Linked DNA regions of Homo sapiens: region 2 is linked to region 1. The links come from fine-mapping of genetic effects on gene expression. Tissue or cell type: whole blood. Region 1 holds a variant in brackets; the other region holds the start of a gene. All regions are shown on one strand. Distances are from middle to middle.

The links. PIP is the estimated chance that this variant, and not a neighbour inherited with it, causes the effect.
Region 2: PDXDC1 starts here. The variant in region 1 is fine-mapped to the expression of PDXDC1 in whole blood (TOPMed, PIP above 0.99).

What each region holds. Positions count from the first base shown.
Region 1 is chr16:15,029,282-15,037,542 of GRCh38, reverse strand. PDXDC1 (pyridoxal dependent decarboxylase domain containing 1) reads right to left here. Exons shown (of 23, transcript NM_015027.4): 16 at 7,487-7,592; 17 at 5,637-5,808; 18 at 4,564-4,682; 19 at 4,144-4,265; 20 at 3,165-3,257; 21 at 2,990-3,086; 22 at 1,990-2,094; 23 at 1-1,527. The coding sequence ends at 1,268. Among named protein-coding and RNA genes, the nearest start is that of NTAN1, 23 kb to the left of the region's middle. The variant C/G (reference allele first, on the strand shown) is at 4,894.
Region 2 is chr16:14,971,805-14,979,804 of GRCh38, reverse strand. PDXDC1 (pyridoxal dependent decarboxylase domain containing 1) reads right to left here and starts at 4,779. Exons shown (of 23, transcript NM_015027.4): 1 at 4,585-4,779. The coding sequence starts at 4,605. RefSeq lists an enhancer at 4,698-5,461 and a silencer at 5,619-5,913.

The DNA.
Region 1 (8,261 bases):
TATCTGCTATACTTCATTGCACCAAATAGGGAAGACTGTTTAATCATCTGCACCAAAAAAAACCCCCTGCATTTTGACAAGTGTAAATGTCAAAAATCCCATCAAATCAGAGTATAATTATAGGCTTAATATACTATAACTAAGGCTTCCAATACTACAGTCCAGAAACCCAGTGTGAATTTTCCCATTTTCAGGTCTCCCAAAAGCTTGACTGCTGGATTAAGAAGGCACAGGGGCCATTACTTACGACAAAGTGACGCAGTACTTCGGAAAAGTAGGAACGGGCAGTGCCAGCGAGCTTCTACTGACTTAAGCAGGGTGCCCGGCTGGATCAGCGTGAGAGAGTGCTCTGCTGGCTCCTGTTTCTGAGTTGGGCCCAGGCGAGCTGCCAGGGCAGTAGAAGCTTCAGTGGGAGACAGGTCAAAGGGGTACTTGTTTTCAGATTTTAACCAGGTGGGTGCTACGTAGCACACGGAAGAGCAAGCTCTTAAGGGTAGCATCTATCAGGTTTTCAGATACTAAACAGAAATGAGCACAGTCTGTACTTGTGTGCCAATTTTAAAAGCTTTGCCAGTATTTAAAAATATATGGTCAGGAGGAGACTTTACAGTTTCTCTTTACAAACGGTATATAATGGGAGAAATGGCCTTGTGGCAGAGGACAGTCCCAGACAGCAGCCTTGCCACAGCTCAAGTAGACACAGTCCTTACTAAGTCTCCACGAAGAGCAGTAGCTGGGGAGGGCTTCTGATGCTCTTATTTACAATCCCACAATCACTGCTCTCCTTCAAGTCTAGCAGTCCCACTGTATATTGCAACTTGATCGTACTAAAGACCGACAGCAAAGGATACAGCCAGTCTCGCCTCTGTGAAGTGTTGCAGAGAACCTGGAGAGTGCTAATGAAAAGCTGTTTTACCAAAAAGTTGCCACGGGCAACCTCATATACTTAGGCTTATGTTTAGAAAGAGCAAGGGTGCTACTGGTAGACACTTGAAATTCGAAGTGTTTTTTGTGAATAAAATGTGTTTATGGTAACTTAGGGAAAAGTCGTAGTAGGACAGCAAACGTGGTTCTACATGTACATGAAGTTAGACAAGCTGACTCCCCTCCTAGAAAGCCTACCTTTCAGGCACATATTTGTGCCAAAATCCCAGTGAAGCACAAACAACAGTAATTTATATTAGTATGTGGCACAGTTCACATTTCCAATAGAACTTCATCTTCCCTGAAACAATACTCAGTACAGTCTCAAACCACACAATGAGTCTCATCTTAAGCTCTCCGGTCCTTCTACCTGTGAGTGGTCATCTTCTGGGTGTGGGACCCCTTTCTGGAAGGCCTCGGTCTGGTCGGTGTGCTGAGGGCTGGGAGCCCCTGGGTGTCCCTCAGTGCTGCTGGCCTCGAGGGTGATCTGCTCCGGCCCACTGGATAGGCGCTCCACCTTTTCTAAGTCTTCAATGTGACTGACTGAGCTGGTCTCACTCAAAGCATCTGAACCTCGCAGGGACCTTTTAAAAGGCTTCTGGCCTACAGAAAGGGCAGACAGACTGCGCTGAAACTCAGTGAGGATACTTCTGCAACACAGGCTGTCTCTGCAACAGATAATTGCTTTATTTCACAACACAGCTTCAGCAGAAACCTTTACTGGCTCTGAGGTGTTTTAGGAGATGAGAAAACCGAGAGCTGCTAGCTTGACACCAACATGCTCCCCAGGCCGGGGAACTCTAAGGTCATCTTCATTAGGAAACGCCCAGGAGGGTAAACACCACAGTGACAATGTCATCTTTCAAGACCCCAACTTCCCCTTAGCGCACTACCGTGGGATTTCTTCAAGGCTGAATCCCACGGCTACCAAGATGGTTAAAGAGATGGTAGTAGTTGGTCTTAAGAGAAATAGACCTCTGGAGTTCAAGAACCCAGAAAACAAACGCAAGTAACAGTCAACAGGGGAAACCTGTTACCTGAACTCGGTGCAGAGGCGTCACTTACCTGGAAGCCTCTGCTTGGTGCGACTGCCCGAGGGCGTTGGAGGCAGCGTGACTCCTGCACCTTGTGCTTTGTAGACATATATGGGTTCTGTGGACTCCAGAGAGCCTGCGGGAGAGGAGAGGGCTGGGTAGAAGCTACAGGCACAGGCTGCCCTTGAAGACACCACCTGCCCTCACACAGCCTTGCTCCCCAATAACCTCCTTCCAGCCACTGAGCCTGCCACAGACTGGTGGAGAGAAGGGCACTTATGAATGTGCCGTGAGCTAGAGAAAGCCACCTCACAGGGCCAGTACCGCCAGCATCCGCCAGCAGTATGGCGTAAGCACACCCAGGGAGCCAGGCCCAACAGGGAAACGTACTGTAGCCACAAGAAGTGGGTGCCTTTTTGCTGAAGGCTAAGGCTTGGCAGATTAGAAATCAGATTATCTTTTGCTTTCATGACAATGGAGTCATCGTTTCCTGGGAAAGAATGAAGGAAGGGGCTCGAGTGTAGGAAATTATTTCCTTGGTAGAACAGGAAAGGAGTCACGGACTGTTAACACCCTCCCCACATTCCAGCGGCTGAAACGCTTGCTGGCTGCCTGGTTCAAAATAAACCGTGCCAGCACTCCATGCTTCAGTCTCTGCATTGCCACTTGCAAAAGCTGTCCTCTGCTGGGGCAGAACACACATGAAGACAAGAAGTATTAACCCTGAACCAAAATGCCCAAGACACAGCACCCTGAGAGTCTGCACGGCTGAGTGGGCGTGTCCTCATGGCCTTGCGGTGGTGACAGCTGTGGAGAGTGGGTAGCTGCTTCCTTGCTGTTTCAGCCGCCAGGGTGCGGTGGGGAGGAGGACAGGGCACACCAGAACTTGTCTCCTCAGATGTCCGGCCCACACCCAGTGATGAAGAACGGGAACCAGGGCGGGATTCTCAGTGGGAAGTGTTGGGACCCAAGGGCATTTGGTGAAACCTCCCAAGGTCAGCAAGACCTGGGAAGAGGCTATGCCGTCCTACCTGCTGTCAAGTTAAAAGTTCTTCCCTTCTGTAAAGCCTGGACCGGAGAAAACCAATTCAGCACGGAGCCCACTACAGGGATCTGCCGCAACACCCCCTGCAAGACAGGACCAGAGTTCAGGGCCACCTGGCCTCACGGCGGCTCCCCCAGCCTGCTGCCCATCGGGGGCCTCACCTCTTCCAGAAGCCGTTCTTCACTTGCCTTCTGCAGCTCCACTTGAGCTTCCTGAATGCCTTTCCGAACCACTTCTGTCATGTTTTCCAGAAGCTGTGGCAAGACCAAGAAAGACATTACTTGTTTAAGGTTCTCACCTGGGGCCCAGAAGAGCTAGTAACACAGCACTGAGGGAATTTTTCAAAAGCAGGTCAATGAAATCCTGCATTGAAAAGCCGGCGTAAAACGAACAGAAACTCAAAGACAAGCAGATAACATGCTCATAGAGGCCTAGGCAGACACACCTTGGTGACCAGCCTCATTTGCTACGTATTCTTGAAAACAGAGAAGTCATAAAGTCAGGCTGGAAAGAAACCTTAAGGAGTCCACCCAGAAAGGAATGAAGCTGGCTTCTCGGCCGCATGTCCAATGGCTCGTGTCTCTCTCCTTTCAGAGCAGTCTTACCTTGGTCCCTCTTCTCTCCTTTTGAGTGATTTTTAGGGAAGTAATCATCTGTTTGGAGGATACCTTATCAGCCTTGTATCCTGGTCCTCCATGCTAAGGGACCCACAGCAGTAGGTCTATTCCTGGTGGGAAGTGCTATAGGGAAGGGGTGTAGGGGGAACCACACATACAACAGCCCATTTCATTCACCCTCAGGACACAGCTCCAGAGCAGAAGTCCTCCCTGACCTTGGTGGCAGGGGTGAATGTGTCTGCCTGAGTGTCCAGCTACCCGCCCTCTTCTCTAAGGCAGGGTTACTACACAGCGTGGCTATGTGGATCTTTCCCCCTGAGCTTGTGAGATCACTGGGGCATGGGCTGTGTCAAACCTACTTGGCATCTCTGACACCTGGCACAAGGCCCAGCTTACAGGAAACATTGACAGACTTTGAGAGACAACGAACAGACATCCCAAGGGCAGCTGCTTTCCTCGTGGCCCCTGCTGTTTGGTGGGACAAAACTCAGAAGAGGAATGAACACTGATGGGTGCTACGGACCCTCGAGTTCTCCTCTATCTCCCGGGCTGTGGCCGCAATGGTCTCCACGAGCTCAGCAGCATCGACGTTGTCGCTCGCCATGCCGACATAAAGGCAGCTCTTCATGCTCTTATACTCAGGGCCTGCAAAGGTAACGAGACAAACTTGAGTTTCTCAGTCCTCTGTCATGGGTGAGACGTGGACCTACTCTCCTGTTCAGGGTCCTGACCACACACAAAGGGGTCTCCTCCATGGAGATTCTAAGGGCGGAGAGAAAGGCCTGGCAAGGCTGCAGAAGGGGAGGGAGGTCTCAGAACCGCATCTTCGCCTGGAACCCAGCCCGAGAGGCGCTAGCCCGCTAAGGGATGAGCCGTCGTCTTCAAAGCCGGTTACCAAGTGTCCTTCCAAACCCCACAGCTGACTTACAAAGTAAGCAGTTACCTATTTTAAAGGTTAGGTCAGATTCCAGTTCATTTAACTTCTTCAGGAGTCCAGCATGGATGTTTTCCCCTTCGGGATCTGATTTCAAACTGCTCTTATCATCATTAGCATGTTCATACCTAAAACAACATCAAACCACAGCATTTCAGCTTAAAAGATCAAATGTCTCTTCTGATACAGGATTAGAAACCTCTAAATATTAGCAAGACAATGCAGTGGAACCAGTGGGCAAAAGAGCTACTGCGAGTGTCTCCAGACCACAAACTTTCTGGAAGTGTGCCAGGAGTAAAGAGAAAGTCACAGGAAAGCCTTTTTTTTTTTTTTTTAAAG[C/G]AGGGTCTCACTTGGTGGCCCAGGCTGGGGTGCAGTGGCATGATCTTGGCTCACTGCAACCTCCACCTCCTGGGCTCAGTTGATCCTTCCATCTAAGCTTCCCGAGTAGCTGGGACTACAGGTGTGCACCACCACCTCTGGCTAATTTTTGTATTTTTTCTAGAGATGGGGTTTCGCCATGTTGTCCAGGCTGGACTCAAGCTCCTGGCCTCAAGTCATCTATGCTCCTGTTGGCCTCCCAAAGTGCTGGGATTACAGGCATGAGCCACCGTGCCCAGCTGAAAGCCTAAGTCTTTAGTTCCATACAAGGTCTGGAAGTCTCATGGGCAATACAAAAAGAGGTTTGCCTCACCTCTGAAGGCGAGAAAGCAGCCATAGGACTGCACCCAGTTCTCTCCCCGAGAGCTGGGTTCTTTTTCTTACTGATTTGCAATTCTCTATATGCCCTGGATAGTAACCATTCTCAGTGAGTGATATATACCTGTTGGCATCTTCTCCTAGGTAGCTGAGAGTCGGCACCTACAGACAGAACATTCAGCAACTCCCCTCCCTGAGCGCCACGCTGGCCAAATTGCCTGCTTGCACTGTGCTTTTGTAAATGCCCAGAAAACCGAGTTGCATTTTCGTTAAGCATATTGTGACTACACGTTCATCTTGGATTTCTAAGGTGGTTCAGAAAATGACCCACTCATGTTCTTTATACAGAAAAGTCTCCAACATCAAGCGGCAGGCCAAGACTTTACCTGACAACCCCTATTCCAGACCAGTTAGGGTCATCAACATATAGGAGACCTGCTGTTGCTTCCACTTCCTGCTTGAACTCTTCACGCAACTGGAGCGTACAGCACAGCACTGGCAGTTTGCTTTCTATGCAGGCTACGAGCTGATCCACATCCTCTCCCCGAGTTCCTAAAACTGAAGATGTTCACAATGTCAGAGAAATGCTCACGAGATGGCCAATGACAAGAGGGCAGGGCTCCCTCTTCCACTACTGGGAAGGTCAAAAGCTCGAGGTACTCCAGTTACCGGGAGCCATGGAGATTTAAACAAAAAAAGGCCCTCAACACAGATATGGAAGAATTAGGGTTAGAAACAGACACAGCTGGCTGTAGCAGGTGTGGAGTGTTTCTCTCACAGATGTGGCCCACAATGACATACTCCAGTGTTAGAAATCACTCTTCCCACAGCAAGCCTACTTCAGGCAGGCTGGAGACATCACACCATAGGTTCAGCACAAAAAGGCAACCACAGATTCTGTACATTCCTATGACTGAGAGAAAGGGAAGTACTGTGGTGGGCTGCTGTCCCCACACAGGAAGGACAGGGAGATGGTGACAGCGCCGGGCCTCAGGGCTCACTGGCTTACTTTTGCAGTTTTAGAGACTAAGTATCTAGAGCTGTGGCCAGGCAATCCTTATAGTGGCCAGTGCTTTGGGAATCTGAGCCAGGAGGATCACTTAAGGCCAGGAGTTCAAGAGCAGCCTGGGTGACAGAGTGAGACCACGTCTCTATGGAAAAAAAAAAAAAAAAAAAAAAATAGATGTGGTGGTGCTCGCCTGTAGTCCCAGCTCCTTGGGAGGCTGAGGCAGGGGATTGCTTGAGCCCAGGAGGTCGAGGTTGCAATGAGCTATGGTGAAGACACTGCATTCCAGCCAGGGTGACAAATGAGACCCTGTTTCTAAAAAAAAAATAAAAACCAAAACACAGATCCCCAGGCTCCATTCTAGAATCTCTGGGGGTGGGCGGCCACTGGTTGTGTGTAAAGCTCCCGGATGACTCTAATGTGCAGTGGGGAGTGAGAACCCTTGTAGTGGAAAATCGAGAGTCACAAGACATCAAAATATAGGAATTCCAGCCTGGCCAACGTGGCAAAACCCCATTTCTACAAAAAATGCAAAAATTAGTCCAGTGTGGTGGCTCATGCCTGTGGTCCCAACTCCTCGGGGGCTGAGGTGGGAAGATCACTTGAGCCCAGGAGGTCAAGGCTGCAGTGAGCCATGATCGCACCACTGCACTCCAGCCTGGGTGACAGAGCAAGACCCTGTCTCAACAACAACAAAAAAGGAATTCATGTGATGACTTTTTTTTTTTTTTTTTTTTTTTTTGAGATGGAGTCTCCTCTGTCCCCCAGGCTGGAGTGCAGTGGTGTAATCTCAGCTCACTGCAACCTCGGCCTCCCAGGTTCAAGTGATTCTCCTGCCTCAGCCTCCCAAGTAGCTGGGACTGCAGGTGTGTACCACCATGCCTGGCTAATTTTTTGTATTCTTAGTAGGGGCGGGATTTCACTATGTTGGCCAGGCTGGTCTCGAACTCCTGACCTCAGATGATCTGCCTGCCTTGGCCTCCCAAGGTGCTGGGATTACAGGTGTGAGCCACCATGCCCGGCCAATTCAGGTGACTTCTGAATTCTCATTCTGATTCTGGTAAGTTACATGGGAATGCTAATCTACCTAAATTTAGCCCAAAAGAAAAGAAAATGCCCCTCCAAAAAGAGCTGCTAATAACTCTAGGAGAATGGAGTATCATAAGGGCAAGCTAATCTACCCAGCAGCCCCAGAACAAAAGCAAGGGATGTCCACCAAGCCTGGTTTACCTGCTGCGGTCATCAAAGGGCTGAACCGCAAACACGTGCCCTCAGCTTCCAGATCCATGACTGTGAGGCCGCTTGCAGGCACCAGCTGCTTCAGCTGTTCTCCCAGCTGTGAGGAGGACACAATGAACACCCTCCTGTAACAAGGGACTCAGACGTCTTCAGGACCCACCCTCATCCCCTCGGCCCCAGACCAAAGAGCCTCCTGGAGAGCTGATTCCTGCTCTTTTGACTGTCTGATTACTTAGAGCAGCTTTTTAAAAACAGTAAATTTTATGGTTTTTTCTTATTAATACAAGTTCATTGTAGAAAAATTTAGGAAATACAAGTAAACAAAAAGAAGAAAATAACAATGACCCACAATATATTACTAAGCGACACCCACTGCTGACATGTGGTCTGCCCCCAGCGTCTTTTCTCCTAGTGGCGGGCAGGGAGTTGTAGTTGTTGTCATAAAACATGCTACTTGACACTGCTTAGTAACCTGCATTGATTCATTTCGTTTATGACCAGTTCCTTTCTGCTTGAGACACTCAGCTCTGTGGTCTCTCACAGCTGTGCTGAGCCCCAGCATGGATGTACCAGGACTTATCTGCCAACCCTGCTAGGCTGGGCGTGTCCAGCATTGGCTAGAACTGCTGCTGCCGCCATCCCACACTGTTCACAAGACCCTTCAGACTCAAATCCTAGAGCTGCTATTCAGTGCCCAAAACGCTATCAAAGTGCAGGCCTGGCTCCACACTGCCAGCTGCAGATGCTCGGCAGACTCTGCCTGGGG
Region 2 (8,000 bases), 58 kb after region 1:
ATGATCAGGAATGTTCCATTGATGCTGCTATAAACCTCTAGCATAACAGCAAGGTGACAAAGAATTTTCTAAAATCAGTCCCAAATAGCAGGAAAGAAACACTTAGCTCAGGATGAGTTCAAGAACCAAAAATGGGCTGAGTTGTGCTGATTTAGGTCAGAAACAGGGTCAAAGTTGCCTCTTTCAGAGATGAGAATTAGATATAACAAGTAATTGGCTGGGCACAGTAGCTCATGCCTGTAACCCCAGCACTTTGGGAGGCCGAGGCGGGTGGATCACTTGAGGTCAGGAGCTTGAGACCAGCCTGGTCAATATGGTGAAATCCCATCCCTACTAAAAATACAAAAATTAGCCAGGTGTGGTGGTGGGTGCCTGTAATCCCAGCTACTTGAGAGGCTGAGGCAGGAGAATCGCTTGAACCCGGAAAGCAGAGGTTGCAGTGAGCAGAGACTGTGCCACTGCACTCTAGCCTGGGCGTCAGAGGGAGACTCCATCTCAAAAAAAAAACACGAATTGCCAGCTCTTAGCACTGTCCAGTGGAACCTTCTTTGCGATGGAAATGTTCCACATCTGTGCTGCCCAGTGTAGCAGACATCAGCCACATGTGGCTGCTGAGCACTTGAAATGTGGCTAGCATGACTGAGGAAATGAATTTTAAATTGTGTTTAATTTTAATCTCAATGTAAACTGCCAAATATGGCTAGTGGTGACCAAACCGGAACTGTAGCTCTAGATTCCCTAAATTAGGGACTTTCAATGACAGGCAATTCCCTCTACCCCTTGGGGGACAACTGCCCCCATCTTGAGACATTTCTTATTGTTACAACTGGGTGTAGGGAGTGCGACTAGCATCTACTGAGCAGAGGTCTGGGACACTGCTAAGCATGCTGCCATGCACAGGCCAGCCCCCATAACAGCAAATTATCTGACCCAAAATATCACTAGTGCTGACGCTGAGAAACTGCTTTAAGTTTGCTCAAGGACAGAATTAAAGTAAATGCAAACAAACTGCAGTATACCTTGCCTAAACATAATACCCAGGAAGAATGAGATCTTTTAACCAACAGAAAAAGGTCTGGGCTATTCTACAAGTTTAGAGTAGCAGGTTTTGGCCTGGCACGGTGGCTCACGCTTATAATCCCAGCACTTTGGGAGGCTAAGGCAAGAGGATGGCTTCAGCCCAGGAGGTTGGGACCAGCCTGGGCAATATAGTGAGACCTTGTCTCGAGAACAAAAAAATTGTTTTAATTAGCTCAGTGTGGGGGTGAGTGCCTGTAGTCCCAGCTACTCAGGAGGCTGAGGCGCGAGGATCACTTGAGCCCTGGAGACGGACGTTGCAGTGAGCCGAGATTGTACCACGGCTCTCCAGCCTGGGTGACAGAGAGAGATCCTGTCTCAAAAATAATAATAATATAACAGGTTTTTACTGGAAGGTGTGTTTAATAACTTAAAATCTTCATCATTATAGTGATTACTTCCTGTGGCATTTTCCTTATTGAATATTAACATAAGTACACACTGTGAGACTCTGCTACAGGGCCTTGTTCCTTATGCCTTGGACATACAGTGGGGGGCAGGGGCAAAGCCCCTACTCCTACTCTCCTAAGTTTGAATTTCCTTTGCCTCCTCAATTAACCCATCTGATTTATTGGGACATCACTGATCTCAGATACAAGAAAACTGATACTGTTGTGGAAGAAAAGCAAATCGTGACGAGAAAATGGCTCTGTTATCACAGGTCTGCACGTTTACATAACAGAAAAAGCAAGGGACAGAACTATATTTGGACCAAATCCAAATCACTGAGTGATTCTACTAAATGATGATCGCATACTACATTTTGTTTTTGTTTTTTCACATACATTTTAAAGTGAGAGATATTATTTTAAATTTTAGAGGGTGAGCATCAAATAACATTGTGGTTTCTGTAATCAGTATAAATTATGCAACAATCAGTTTAAATGGGATCATTTACAACTGCTCACATAGCTCTTGAGTTTATATTAACAATGTAGAATTTAACGCAGGATAGTCTATTCCTCAAAGAAACAGGAATAATGAACACAATTAAATGTTTCACTTTGACCCAGACTATTTTTCAGAACATAAAGTCATCAACATTCATATTACAGCAATGCTTTTTCTTTTCTGCCCAATTAGCACCAATATAAATCGTTTATTCCATCTAAGGCCCTGTATTACTTCAGGGAATATAAATCTAAGTCCCGGCCAGGTGCAGTGGCTTACGCCTGTAATCCCAGCACCGTGGGAGGCTGAGGCTGAAGGATCACAAGGTCAGGCGTTTGAGACCATCCTGACCAACGTGGTGAAACCCCATCTCTACTGGGAATACAAAAATTAGTCGGGTGTGGTGTCACACGCCTGTAGTCACAGCTGCTCGGGAGGCTGAGGCAGGAGAATCACTTGAATCCGGGAGGCGGAGGTTGCAGGGATCCGAGATCGCCTCACTGCACTCCAGCCTGGGCAAGAGACCGAGACTCCCTCTCAAAAAAAAAAAAAAAAAAAAAAAAAAAAGTAAGTCCCATAGTTCTGAAAAACTTACACTCAGAATTTTCACATTGACCTAAGGCAGAAACCTCCAGCCCACACGTTCTGAATTCCTAAAAGATCACTACAATTTTTGTGAATGCTCCAATATTAAACACACTGGAATTTCAGTCCCTCTTGCGATCCTCATTGAGAGAGTTTAAGATCTTTTATCATCAATTAACACTTAGGGAGCAACTACTGTAACCTACTGATCAAATGCCAGAAAAGTAATATTTAAAGCAGGATTCTGACCCACCCTGCAGATTTTCCTATAAAGGCTAATTATTCCTGGAGGAAAGATCACCCCAGTTCTTCAGGATTCCAATTACAATCACATGAAGCCCACCCACCTTCTTAGGAAATTGATAACACCACTTTGCATCGTTTTGTACTCAACTGCTGGTGTTATAAACATGATCTTGACCAGGATTTCTCAGCCTCAACACTGCTGACATTTTGGGCCAGAGAATTCTCCAGCGTGGGGGGCTGTCCTGTGCAACGTAGGATGTTTAGAGGCGTCCCTGGCCTCTACCCACTAGGTACCGGCAGCACCTCCCTGCCCCCATTGTGACAATCAAAACTATGTCCAGAGATAGCCAAATGTCTCCTGGGGAAATAAATTGCCCCCTGCTTTAAGAACCACTCATCTGGACAAACTCAAAGTACCAAAAGGTAGACACCCTGCTAATCAGACGACCGGAAAGACTTTATTCCCAGCCAGGAAAACACGTAACATTCACCCCAGAGATGGCACAAGAAAACCATATTATCTTTTTCTTGTCTTCCACCCAATTTATGCTAAGCAACCCAGGAGTAGGCTATACCACTGTGAGCACATGAAGACATCTGGCCCAACCTTTACAATTATTGCCTTCAACTCTCCAGTGACAAGTGAACAAAATCTACAGCAGCTGCTGCCTTGAAAAAAGACAAAATATATTATTCCTACCAGCTCAAAATTAAAATGTAGCCGTCTTAAAACACGAGCATTGCTCCTGAATGCCACATGCATGAAAAACCGGGTATGCACTGGATTGGACAAGCAGACTCCCAAGCTGGAACAGACAGAAGGGCTTTGAGGGAGGGCAGAATGTCAGGTACCGAAAGCAGGAATCCGTGAAGAAACCCAAACTGGTTTCCATTTACAAGCCCTAACACTGGGACAATGAGAATCCGTTTCACATGGTAGAGCAGTCAGCCTGGTACACCACGCTGCCGTTCCCCCAAGGGGAAACCAGAGGTAGGCTCTGTTACCAGTGGATTTCGAGTTGACTCGGGGATCCCTCCTCGCCACTGGAATGGGGGAGCCAGGAAGTTGTGGAGCAGCTGCGATCCCCAAAACTCAATTCGCAATCTACGCAACACCCACCCCTTTCTGGAACTCAGAGGTTCTCGCCCGGTGATCGCAGGCTCAGCATCAGAATCACCTGCGTGGGGCGGAGTGGGAGCGGGGCGGTGGCGGTTAAACACGCAGTTCCCGGTCCCGCCCCCAGAGGTTCTGACCCCGGGACTGAACCTCCGCATTTTACCAAAGGCCCCAGGTGATTCCCACTCAGGCTGAAGTTGGAAAACCACTGCTTTGGCAATTTTCATTCCTAACTCGGAGACCAAGAAAAACCTACAGGTTTGCAGCTGGCTCTGAAATAACTGCGGCTTCTTTCCGGGAGCATCTGGGGCCGCCAACGGAGAGCTCCCGGTCCTCCGAAAGGGCCAGCCGAGCTCAGGCCGGCCACTCGCGGAACCTCGGCAGGGCCCAAGGTCGGCCCCGCGGTCCCAGTCCTGGGCTCCGGGCCCGTCGCGGCCCCCACCGAACCCCGCCCAGCCTCTTCGGCCCACGGGGACCCAAGAGACACCCGGCCCCGTGACGCGCCCGGGCCCCAGCCGCCCTCCCGGCGAGGCCTCCTCAGGCAGGGCCTGTCAGCCCGCGTCCCCCTGTCCGGGTCACAATGGCAGCTCGCGACTGGGAAACAGTTGCCTCGGAAGCGGGAGCCCCGGGCCGCAGCACCGTCCCCATCGCCCCCTCCCGGCACGGACCTTCTCCAGGGACGCGTCCATGGCTGAGGCGGCCGGTGGTGGCCTGGCGGTCCCGGGCTCTACTTCCTCCTCCCGCGCCCCGCAGCTCCTTCCACGCTGGCAGCGCTGACGTCCCCCGCGCCCGCGGCCGGCGGGGCGGAGAAGAGGAGGAGCTGCCAGGCGGCGCCGCGGGCTGCCGAACCTGATGGTTGAGAGGCGGCGGGGCGGGGCCCCGTAGCGCTGGGCGGAGCCCTCTGGGATTCCGTACCTGGGCGCCACGCCGGCCCTCCCTAACGTGCGCAGGTGAAGGGGGGAGGATGCCCGGTGGATTGTTCACCAAACTCTTTCCAGCAGCCTGTTGCAATCATCAAGGTAGAAGTATAATAATCACAAAGTACTATTCATGGAGTGAAAGGCTGGAAATACTAGTGACGCACCTCACTTCCGGGCCCAGGCTTCCAAGTCTCCCGCCTCACCTCCCGCCGGCATCCCTCGAGAATGGAACAGGCCATTCGCCAAGGAGGCGGTGAGCGAGTGGGCAACCTTGCGCATGCGCAGGACTCGCAGCGTCCTCGGCGCCCGGGGACTTGGGGGTTTTGGGGTTGGGGGCTGCTTAGTGAACGCTGTTCAGAGAAGGCACTGATCTAAGCTGAGGTGTTGTCTCAGACCTTACCGCCGAATTCTAGACGGAAAAAATTGTTGTAACAACCGGTCCAGCCTCTTTCATGTCACAATTATCACTTGTCAGGTAATGGGTAGTAGTAATAATGATAATATTAATACATCAGCTGCTGTTCTTCCATTTTCCTATTTCAGCAGCTCTAGGAGATCATTATCCCCATTTCGCAGTGCCGATCTAGGTAGGATTCAGACCCAAGCCCCATGAGTCCACATACTGCTTCCACTCCTACTTTACTTTAAATGTTTTAAAAAGTTAATTTTTTATTAATTTTTTTATCTTGTTAACCGATGAACTGAAGAGAAAAAAAATTAAAATCTCATTTTAATAGAGAAGGTAGGGGTGTCTCACTATGTTACCCAAGCTGGCTTCAAACTCCTGGCCTCAGGCGATCTTCCCGTCTCAGCTTCCCCAAGTGCTGGGATTACAGGCATGAGCTACCACGCCCGGCCACTTTTGCAATTTTACTGCAATGTGTTTCGAACGAATGGGGAGGGCGTACATTTGCTTAGTAGATTCCTCCCACCTTAATGTGGGAAACTGATATAGACTACCACAGTGGCAATCAATGGAACACTTCACCTCTGCGATGACGCTACAACCACAATCTTACTCCTTTTCTCTCCTGTTTTATACTCTTCGTCCCGAAATCTGTGTAAACAGGGTCACATTTTCAGCGCAGTAACTCCATGTTTTGAGCTATCTACGTTGTATTTGGTAAATTGCCTGGTTATGTTAATAAAATTATTTTCTACCAAAAAACCCTTGTGTGCTGGTTTAGACTGTACTGTGGGGATTATTCTGACTCTCTAAAGAGCTTTCCAAACAGAAGGAAAGATAGATTTATGTCTTTCAAGAATTGAAGATTGAATGTACCCCTGCTTGAGCAAAACAAGTCACTTTTCCAACGTGTTATGAAATTTTTCAAACGTAGAAAAGTTTAAACAGTTGTACAGTGAACAACCATATACCCACTACCTAGATTCTACAGTTAATTTTCCCTATATTTGCTTTAATCACATATGCATCCATATATCCATCCATCGATATATGTTAGTACATTTCACCTCTGAGCACCTCAGCATGGGTATCATTCAAAACTAGTAAATTTTACTAAAGTCACCTCCAAGTTTCTGTGGATTACATTACAAAGTATAATAGATTCTACAAAACAAATACTAGAGAGAAAAGTTAACTTTACTGTTTTAAAAGTAGACTTTGAAAACCCAACATGAAAAAGTGGAAATAATCAACCGTATTATTTATTATATTTAGCCAAACATTTATTGACTGCCATCTTGGACAGTTGTGCTGGAAATAGTATGTAAAAGAATAAGAGGCTGGTTCAAGAGCAGCCTGGCCAACAGAGTGAAACTCCGTCTCTACTAAAAATACAAAAAATTAGCTGGGCGTGGTGGCAAACACCTGTAATCCCAGCTACCTGGGAGGCTGAGGCAGGGGAATCACTTGAACCCCGGGGGCAGAGGTTGCAGTGAGCCGAGATTGTGCCACTGCGCTCCAGCCTGGGCAATAAGACGAGACTCCATCTCAAAAAACAATAAAAATACAAATAAGAGGCTGGGCCGGGCGCGGTGGCTCACGCCTGTAATCCCAGCACTTTGGGAGGCCGAGGCGGGCGGATCACGAGGTCAGGAGATCGAGACCATCCTGGCTAACACGGTGAAACCCCGTGTCTACCAAAAATACAAAAAGAAATTAGCCGGGCATGGTGGCGGGCGCCTGTAGTCCCAGCTATTCTGGAGGCTGAGGCAGGAGAATGGCGTGAACCCGGGAGGCGGAGCTTGCAGTGAGCAGAGATCGCACCACTGCACTCCAGCCTGGGCGACAAAGCGAGACTCTGTCTCAAAAACAAAATATAATAAAAAATTTAAAAATTTAAAAAAGGCTGGGCGCGGTGGCTCATGCCTGTAATCCCAGCACTTTGAGAGGCCGAGGTGGGCGGATCACCTGAGGTCAGGAGTTGGAGAACAGCGTGGCCAACATGGTGAAACCCTCGTCTGTACTAAAAATAGAAAAATTAGTGGGTGTGGTGGTGTGCGCCTGTAATCCCAGCTACTCGGGAGGCTGAGGCAGCAGAATCGCTTCAACCTGGGAGGCGGAGGTTGCAGTGAGCCAAGATTGCACCACTGCATTCCAGCCTGGACGACAAGAGCAAGACTCCGTCTACACACACACACACACACACACACACACACACACACACACACACACACAAAACAAAGACAAGCTCTCTGCCCTGAAGAAAAACACTATTTTGGGTAGAAGTTTTTACTTTGGGATGCAGATGGAGGTCTCTGAAACTATACTCAACATTTTGTGTGTGAGTGAGTGCATTTTTCTGGGGAAAACATCCATTGTCTTCATTATATACTCAAGTCTGTGATTCCCCCATCCCCGAAAAAAAAAAAAAAAAGTTGAAACCATTTGGCTTGTGGATGCACAGATAGGAAAACTGATACATTATAATGCAACATTCTATGGACTAGTGAAGAGAGATAAGCAGAATATTGTACAGTTTGGAGCATGAAGCCATCAGTTGTGGGGAGGTTTAATCTCTACTGACATATGGCTTTATGTGCTGCTAACAGACCTGTCTTTTTCTTTCTTTTTCTTTTTCCAGACGAGTCTCACTCTGTTGTCCAGGCTGAAGTGTAACGGCGCAGTCTTGGCTCACTGCAACCTCTGCCTCCCCGGTTCAAGTGATTCTGCTGCCTCAGCCTCCCGGAGTAGCTTCGAC